2 separate regions of the Homo sapiens genome follow, and region 1 is linked to region 2. A link means that fine-mapping ties the variant in region 2 to the expression of a gene that starts in the linked region. Tissue or cell type: skeletal muscle. Region 2 holds a variant in brackets; the other region holds the start of a gene. All regions are shown on one strand. Distances are between the middles of the regions.

Region 1 (4,293 bases), 140 kb after region 2:
CACTCGATATACGCCCAATAAACATTTGCTCAGTGAACAATAATGCCACAACCCCTGAGTGATTTCTGGACCACACCTCAAGTATTTCTTGACCTTCTATTAAGGGACTCCTATGAACTCTACATAAAGTTCTATTTCTGTCAGAAACTCTCAGAATGTAAACGGTGTTTCTCTCCATTTGCCTTTGCTCAAATCTGCAAAGTGCCATCTCCTTCAACAGTTCTGCATGGTTCTTCCCACTACTACTTCATATTCTCATAATACGCGTAGATACTAGAAAGAAGGTACTATGTGTATTCCTGGGGGGAAAAAAAAAGGAGATCTTTCACTAACTAATATGACTTTTTTTTTTTTTTTTGAGACAGAGTATCGCTCTGAGGCCCAGGCTGGAATGCAGTGGCGTGATCTCAGCTCACTGCAACCTCCGCCTCCTGGGTTCAAGCGGTTGTCCCACCTCAGCCTCCCAAGTAGCTGGGATTACAGGCACCCGCCACCATGCCCAGCTAATTTTTGTATTTTTAGTAGAGGTGGGGTTTCACCACGTTGGCCAGGCTGGTCTTGAATTCCTGACCTCAGATGATCCTCCCGCCTCAGCCTCCCAAAGTGCTGGGATTACAGGCGTGAGCCACTGCGCCCAGCCATGACTATTATTTTTAAGGGTTGGGATGCCTTAAAGGTACTTTTTTCATAAGAAACACACAAACTACATTATCTGAATTCTGGCCATGTACAGGAAGACATTCTTAAAATATTTTAAAAGCCTCTGATTTTAAGGTGAACAGAACCTTTTAAAGGCACTGCAAGTACCCGCTGGTTTACTGCTTTATGTACACACCCTTCGTGGCCACTGAAGATTCTACATGACTGGCTAACTCATTTTCACAAAATAAGTACCTTTTTGGTCATACCGTGGTGTTAAAAGAAATAGGATCCCAGGAAGGAGGTAGTGAGACATTAAAAACAAAAAATAGGGTGCGGGTGGAGGGAGAGAGAGCATCAGGAAGAATACCTAATGGATGCTGGGCTTAATACCTGGGTGATGGGATGCTGTGTGGAGTAAACCACCATGGCACACGTTTACCTATGTAATACATCTGCAAATCCAAATCCTGCACATGTACGCCTGAATTTAAAATAAAAGTTGAAAGAAAGAAAAAAAAAAAAAGCAAGAGATCTAGTTGATAGTCTGTTTTACTAATGATTCACTGGGTAACCCTGGATCAGTCTTCTTAACTCGAAGTGAAGCGCCCAGTAAATAAACTCCCAAAATGCCTTCCAAGGAAAATATTTTGTTGCCAAATCAATTTGCTCTCTTAATGACTTAGCAGACATGATCTTGGTGATTATATGAAGAACTGCATAATTACAAGTATTCACAGGAAACCTGGTATTTGCCTATCAGTTTCGGATCCTATGAAGGTTTAAATGAGTCTAATATATGGTTCTTTAAGGATCTACAAACCAGTATGTATTTTAGAAAAGCTAGTTTTTGCATGAGGAGGATAGGTTTTAGAATGTGAGCCTTTCCAGCATGTTACTACTGTCTTTCCACACTTATTCGGCGCCCACACTGAATTGGGAAGGTGCTGTGTAAAAACCTGGACAGGACAATACAAAAAATGGTTCTCAGCGCCACTCCTCCTATCCTTACATCTCTTTTCTCTCCAAACTGTTCGAGAATCTGATAGAAGATCTCCAGAGTAGCGTCAATCAACTGCACAAAGGTCTGCATTACAACATACAGAGAGAGACATATGGGCTTGTCCAGCTCTTCAGAGCAAGGACGGCCTGATGCAGACTTTCCAGACCTCTAACATAGGTTAAAGAGAAACGAAGCAAACGCCTGGTGAAAAGCTGGAAACACCTCATATGGGTCCCCGCCTGGCCTCTCCAAAGCAAATGCCCACCTCTTCCTTCAGTCCCCTGGGGGCGACCGCCCTGCCCCATCCCCGCAGTCGCCTGCCGGCCCTGACCTCCTCGAACTGCTCGCTAGAGCAGCCGGCGCCGCGAGCCTCCAGCAGCTCCCGGAACTGCTCCAGAGTGACAGACTCTTCGCCGCGGCCCAGCCGCTCTTCCAGCCAGCGAAACAACGCGCCGCGATGCCTCGACACCAGCGACTCGCAGGGGGGTGTGGGCAGCAACGCTGCAGCAGCCTCTCGCAGCCTGGCCGGCTCCAGCAGCGCCGCGGCGGGTGGTAGCGCTGGAGCCGCGACGCCCGGGCCGGGGGTCGTGCCCGAGACCGCGGCCCAGTCCTGGTGTGGGCCCCAGCCCTCGCCACCGGCAGCTGCCGCTTCGTCTTCACTGCTGTGACTCGGAGCGTTCCCCATGGGGTCTCCGTCTTGGGCGCCTGGCTCTGCAGCCGCCGCCGCCGCCTCCCCGCCTCGACCTGTCAACCTCCGACAGCAGCTGGCGGGCGGGGACGCGGAGGAGACGACGGCGGCCCCTGCGGCTTCCGGCTTCCTGGCCGTCAAGCGACGACCGCTGTCGCAAAGGCGCCGTCACGTAGATAGGCGGCCTCTACCAACTCACGACAGCTAGGCGGGGAGCGCCGCCTCAAAGGGTGCAACCTTGATTTCCCAGAGGACGAGTCTGTCTCAGTATCTACGTCATTCCGTAGCCTCCGCTGCCGCCATCTTTGTTGGGGCTGACAACCTGCAAGCCAAGAAGTACGAGAAGGGCCAGGCGCGGTGGCTCACGCCTGTAATCCCAGCACTTTGGGAGGCCGAGACGGGTGGATCACCTGAGGTCAGGAGTTCGAGACCAGCCTGACCAACGTGGTGAAACCCTGTCTCTACTAAATACAAAATATTAGCCGGACGTGGGGGCGCGTGCCTGTAATCCCAGCTACTTGGGAGGCTGAGGCAGGAGAATCGCTTGAACCCGGGAGGCGGAGGTTGCAGTGAGCCGAGATTCCGCCAGTGCACTCCAGCCTGGACAACAAGAGCTAAAACTCTGTCTCAGAAAAAAAAAAAAAAAGTACCTGGAAAAAGTCGCAGACAGCGAGCTTTTCGCCAGTGCCAGGAATACAGATAAAACGAGAGAGACTAAGGGAGGGAGCGCGAGCACTAGCGCGCGAGAGAGAGAGCGAGAGCGCGCGCGCCGATGACGTCACGCTCGGCGTCTCGGCCATCTTAGCTGTAGATAGAGGCGGCAACCTCGGAAGTGCGGAGCGGGTGGGCCTATATAGATGTTGAGGTGCGGAGGCCGTGGGCTTTTGTTGGGCCTGGCTGTAGCCGCAGCAGCGGTAATGGCAGCACGGCTTATGGGCTGGTGGGGTCCCCGCGCTGGCTTTCGCCTTTTCATACCGGAGGAGCTGTCTCGCTACCGCGGCGGCCCAGGGGACCCGGGCCTGTACTTGGCGTTGCTCGGCCGTGTCTACGATGTGTCCTCCGGCCGGAGGCACTACGAGCCTGGGTCCCACTATAGCGGCTTCGCAGGTATCAGCGAGGCTGCTCACGCCTTTCTCTCCGCTGGCGCGAGCCAGTAGCCACCTGCGCGTCGTTCGTTGGTTCATTATTCATCTATTTCCCCCCCCATCCCCACCCCACATCCATCAAACCCGTGCGGTGGGCGGGACGAGCTGCATGCACTATCCTTCTAGGCTCTCTGGCTCTGGCGGGACTGTGGGCCAGCTCTGTCATCCACCACCGCCCTGCGTGACTTACATTGGAGAAACATGTCTTCTGTCTCTTGTTACCCATTACCCAGCGTCGGAAGCCCTAGGATACGGGCTGTGTGCCGGACTTTTGTGGGGGCTCTTAGGGCACAGATAAACGAGATCCCGCCCCGCCCCTACCCTCACAGTTTCCTTAATAATTCCAACCATCTCTTCATTATGCCCTGGTCCCAAATAATCTTTCTTCCCCCCACCCCTAAGCATAGTGTTTTCAAGGTTCATCCATGGTTTATGAGCATGCATCAATACTTTATTCCTTTATGGCCCGTCATATAGTACATTTGGTCTGAGTCATTCCTGCTTCTAGTACAAGATGCACCTGTTTGCCTTCCTTAGAAGGTTAGGGCAGAGGAAAGGGGTCCAGTCACCTTTACAGTCCTTGATACGTAGACCAAAGTTGTGCATATGTTAGGCCTCAAGAAACATTTGTCAAATTAAGTTTATGCTGGTGTCCCTGTGTTACAGCTGAGGGGGTTAAAGGATGCGATTTGCCTGAAACCCTCACACCTGAATACTGACAGAATATGGACTCGGACCACCAGTCTAGTGCTTTTTTTTTAAAGATGGAATCTCGCTGTGTCGCCCAGGCTGGAGTGCAGTGGCCTGATCTCGGCTCA
Region 2 (4,618 bases):
AAATAAACTAAAATATATTGAGGTTTGCTATCGCCTAGAATAGGGTCTGTTCTGGGTAATATTCCATGAGCACTTGAGAAAATGTATATTCTGCTTTTGTTGGGTAGAGTGTTCTATAGACATCCATCAAGTCAAATTGGTTCATAGTGTTGTTTAAGTCTTCAATTTTCATGCTACTTGTGAGACCGAAGTAGGAGGATTGCTTGAGCCCATAAGTTCAAGATCTGCTTGGGCAGCATAGTGAGACTTATTCTAAAATAAATACATAAATGATGTTCAATTTCCTTGTTGATCTCCTGGCTACTTCTTTTTTTTTTTTTTTTTTTCTTTTTTTTTTTTAATTGATCATTCTTGGGTGTTTCTCGCAGAGGGGGATTTGGCAGGGTCATAGGACAATAGTGGAGGGAAGGTCAGCAGATAAACAAGTGAACAAAGGTCTCTGGTTTTCCTAGGCAGAGGACCCTGCGGCCTTCCACAGTGTCTCCTGGCTACTTCTATCCACTACTGAAAGTGGGGTCTTGAGGTCTCCAGCTATCATTGCTGAGTTATCTATTCCCCGCTTCATTTCCGTCAGTTTTTGCTTCATGTGCTTTGGTGCTCTGTTACTAGGTGCATATATATTTATAATTGTTATATTTACCTGATGGATTGACCCTTTTATAATTCTAAAATGTCCCTAGAAGCATTTTTTTTGTTTTAAAGTCTATTTTGTCTGATAAAACTATAGCCACTTCAGCTTTCTTGTGATTGCCCTTTGCATGATATATCTTTTTTTTATTCTTTTGCTTTTCATCTATTTGTGCTTTTAAATCTAAAATGTTTCTCCATGGACAGCATATAGTAGAACCTTGTGTTTTTATTTTTTATTTTTTGAGATGGAGTCTCGCTCTGTCGCCCAGGCTGGAGTGCAGTGGCGCGATCTCGGCTCACTGCAACCTCCACCTCCCGGGTTCACGCCATTCTCCTGCCTCAGCCTCCTGAGTAGCTGGGACTACAGGCACTCGCCACCACACCCGGCTAATTTTTTGTATATTTAGTAGAGATGGGGTTTCACCATGTTAGCCAGGATGGTCTTGATCTCCTGACCTCGTGATCTGCCCGCCTCGGCCTCCTAAAGTGCTGGGATTACAGGCGTGAGCCACCGTGCCTGGTCGAATCTTTTTTTTTATCCAGTACAATAATCTTCCTTTTGATTACATTGTTTAATCCATTTACATTTAATATTATTGGTATAGTTGGATTTATGCCGCCATTTTACTTTTTGTTTTCTATGTCTCAAGTCTTTTCTGTTCCTCATTCTTCCTTCACTGCTTTCCTTTGCATTAAGTGAATATTTTCTAAGGTAGCATTTACATTTCTATGATGATTTTTTTGAAGTATATTTTTGGCATTTTCTTAGTTGTTGATCTAGGGTTTTATATACTTTTTTTTTTTTTTTTGAGACAGCGTCTCACTCTGTCACCCAGGCTGGAAAACAGTGGCATTATCATGGCTCACCACAGACTTGATGTGCTGGGCTTAAGCAATCCTCCTACCTCAGTCGCCCGAGCAGCTGGGACTACAGGCAAGCACCACCATGCCTGGCTAATTTTGTTTATTTTTTATAGAGATGAGGTCTCACTATGTTTCCCAGGCTGGTCTCCAACCCCTGAGCTCAAGCGATTCATCCTCTTGCCTTGGGCTCCTAAAGTGCTGGGATTACAGGCCTGATCCATTGCACCTGGCTATACATTTTAACTTACTAGAATCAGCTTCTGATTTATTTATTTATTTATTTTTGAAATAGAGTCTCGCTCTGTCACCCAGGCTGGAGTACAGTGGCGCAATATCGGCTCACTGCAACCTCTGCCTCCCAGGTTCAAGCAATTCTCCTGTCTCAGCCTCCCAAGTAGCTGGGACTACAGGTGTGTGCCATCATGCCTGGCTAATTTTTGTATTTTTTTTTTAGTAGAGACAGGGTTTTGCCATGTTGGTCAAGCTGGTCTCAAATTCCTGACCTCAGGTGATCCACCTGCCTCAGCCTTCCAAAGTGCTGGGATTACAGGCATGTGCCACCGCGCCCAGCCTCAGCTTAAGATTTATATTAACTTTAATTTTAATGAGATGTAGAAACATGACTCCTATGTAGCTTTTTTCCCTTTCTCTCCTTTTTGTGGCATTGTTGTTATAACTATCACATCTATAAATGTTACAAGCCCAACAATAAGTTGTTATAATCATTACTTTAAATAATTTTATGTTTTCTACAGAAGCTGAGAGAAAAAGGAGAATAAGTATATACAGCTTTTATTATATTAATCCTCTTTTT[T/A]AAAAAAATAATTTCTAGGCCGGGCACGGTGGCTCATGCCTGTAATCCCAGCACCTTGGGAGGCCGAGGCGGGGGGATCACTTGAGGTCAGGAGTTTCAGACCAGCCTGGCTAACATGGTGAAACTCCGTCTCTACTAAAAATACGATAGCCAGGTGTGGTGGCGGCGCCTGTAGTCCCAGCTACTTGGGAGGCTGAGGCAGGAGAATGGCGTGAACCCGGGAGGTGGAGGTTGTAGTAAGCCGAGATCGCGCCACTGCACTCCAGCCTGGGCGACAGAGCGAGACTCCGTCTCAAAAAATAAATAAATAAAATAATTTCTAGTTCTCTTCATTTCTTCTCGTGGATTTGAGTGACATCTGGAGTCATTTCCTTAGCCCAGTACAGCTTTGCTCCCACCCACCTTTCTTGTCTTGCTTTTGGTAAATATACTACATTTTATATGTAATAGGCCTAACAATATGTTATATTCATATTTATACAGTTGCTTTTTAAATCAGTTGAGAAGAAAAATGAATTTATACTGTCTTTTATAATTGCATAATTACTTTTACCAGTGCTTTTTGTGGATTCAAATTGCCATCCGGGGTAACTTGCTTTTAGCCTGAAGAACTACCTTTTTTTTTTTGAGACGCAATTTTGCTCTTGTTGCCCAGGCTGGAGTGCAATGGCGTGATCTTGGCTCACTGCAAACTCCATCTCCCAGGTTCAAGCAGTTCTCGTGACTCAGCCTCCCAAGTAGCTGGGATTACAGGCGCCCGCCACCACGCCCGGCTAATTTTTGTATTTTTAGTGGAGATGGGGTTTCACCATGTTAGCCAGGCTGGTCTTGAACTCCTTACCTCAAGTGATCCCCCCCACCTCGGACTCCCAAAGTGCTGGGATTACAGGCGTGAGCCACCATGCCTGGCCTTGCCCAGTTTAATTTTGTCTCAAATTATATTGCCTGATGCTGAATAACTCTGATTTTCTGTTTGCATCTGCTTGATAGACATGTGCTCATTCTTCTGCATTTCACCTTTTTCTGGTCTTAAGATCAGTTGTTTTAAATGTCTGTCTCTCCACTTCTGTTGCAAATTTCTAAACTCACTAGTGGATAAGCTGCCTGCCACATCTGGGGGCATCTTGCCTGGCCGAGTGGTTGAGTGGTCCAGCTGATGTGTTGACGAGGCTCACAGTGGCTGCGTGGGTACTTCTGCCATTGTCATGGATGCTGTGTTGCTCAGCAATTCTGAGGTGACAACACAAACTCATGGGTCTCCCAGGTAGCTTTTAAAACAGTAAATTGGCCGGGTGTGGTGGCTTACACCTGTAATCCCAGCACTTTGGGAGGCCGAGGCGGGTGGATCATGAGATCAGGAGATCGAGACCATCCTGGCTAACATGGTGAAACCCCATCTCTACTAAAAAGACAAAAAATTAGCCAGGTGTGGTGGCAGGCACCTGTAATCCCAGCTACTCGGGAGACTGAGGCAGGAGAATCGCTTGAACCCGGGAGGTGGATGTTTCAGTGAGCCGAGATCGCGCCACTGCACTCCACCCTGGGTGACAGTGAGACTCGGTCTCAAACAAACAAACAAAACAAACAAACAAAAAACAGTAAATTAACTCACGGCTAGAAGATACCAGCCAACAGCTTGGGAAGCCTCACATGAAGAGAGAGTGAGAAGCCCTCTCCACTGGGGAATCAGAGGTGGTCAGTGGCCGCGAGGAAGAGGAGAGAGCCATCACCTGGTGCTTTAATTTTCGCCCTCACCTGCCTGAAAACCCAGGTGGAAGCAGGGCAGGAGAATGAGCGGAGGAGGAAGAGGAGGAAGAGGCAGGATGGAGGGCGGGAGAGAGAGGGAGCCGACATCTTTGAGTCCCTGGAATTTAGCTTTGCCTGGGGCTAGAGGCAACCCTCGGGCTTTTCGGTTTTGTAAGTCAATCCATTTCCGTGTTAAGTTAGTTTGGAGTGTCTTTAACTTGCAACTGAAGAAATCCCAACGAATCCTGGGACAGCGCCTCCAGATAGGAAGTCTAGAAGCTGGTTGGGCATGAGCAAAGCTACGTACGCCAAGAACCCCAAGAGAGAAGGAGAATTTGGTAATGGAGCAACTGGATGCCATCTGTGGCTTGACTGGACACTGTTGGAGGCCTTTTTATTTCTGGAATTTTTACATTTCCTTTCCATATACTGTCCATATTTAATGTCATGAGAAGAGAGCTGTGACATTATTTCAACCTACTGGAGCCAAATTGTTGCATAAAGTTGGGTCAGAAATACTTTCCGCTGAGGTGAGAGGACACCTTGCCACCTCCTGGAGATGGG

Direction of the effects. Positions count from the first base shown, and alleles are read on the strand shown. Sizes are in standard deviations (SD) of each study's normalised expression.
For the expression in skeletal muscle of the gene that starts at base 2,462 in region 1, A is the high allele of the variant in region 2 and T is the other (small effect, 0.16 SD a copy in GTEx).

What was found. PIP is the estimated chance that this variant, and not a neighbour inherited with it, causes the effect.
Region 1: ZZEF1 starts here. The variant in region 2 is fine-mapped to the expression of ZZEF1 in skeletal muscle (GTEx, PIP 0.96). The same link has a PIP of 0.9 or more in Th17 cells.

Annotation. Positions count from the first base shown.
Region 1 is chr17:4,140,569-4,144,861 of GRCh38, forward strand. ZZEF1 (zinc finger ZZ-type and EF-hand domain containing 1) reads right to left here and starts at 2,462. Exons shown (of 55, transcript NM_015113.4): 1 at 1,974-2,462. The coding sequence starts at 2,327. It overlaps CYB5D2 (cytochrome b5 domain containing 2), which reads left to right and starts at 2,629. Exons shown (of 4, transcript NM_144611.4): 1 at 2,629-3,437. The coding sequence starts at 3,188. RefSeq lists a silencer at 2,188-2,357 and enhancers at 2,223-2,774, 2,438-2,747, 2,775-3,327, 2,898-3,477.
Region 2 is chr17:3,997,048-4,001,665 of GRCh38, forward strand. No RefSeq gene overlaps it. Among named protein-coding and RNA genes, the nearest start is that of LINC01975, 22 kb to the left of the region's middle. The variant T/A (reference allele first, on the strand shown) is at 2,309.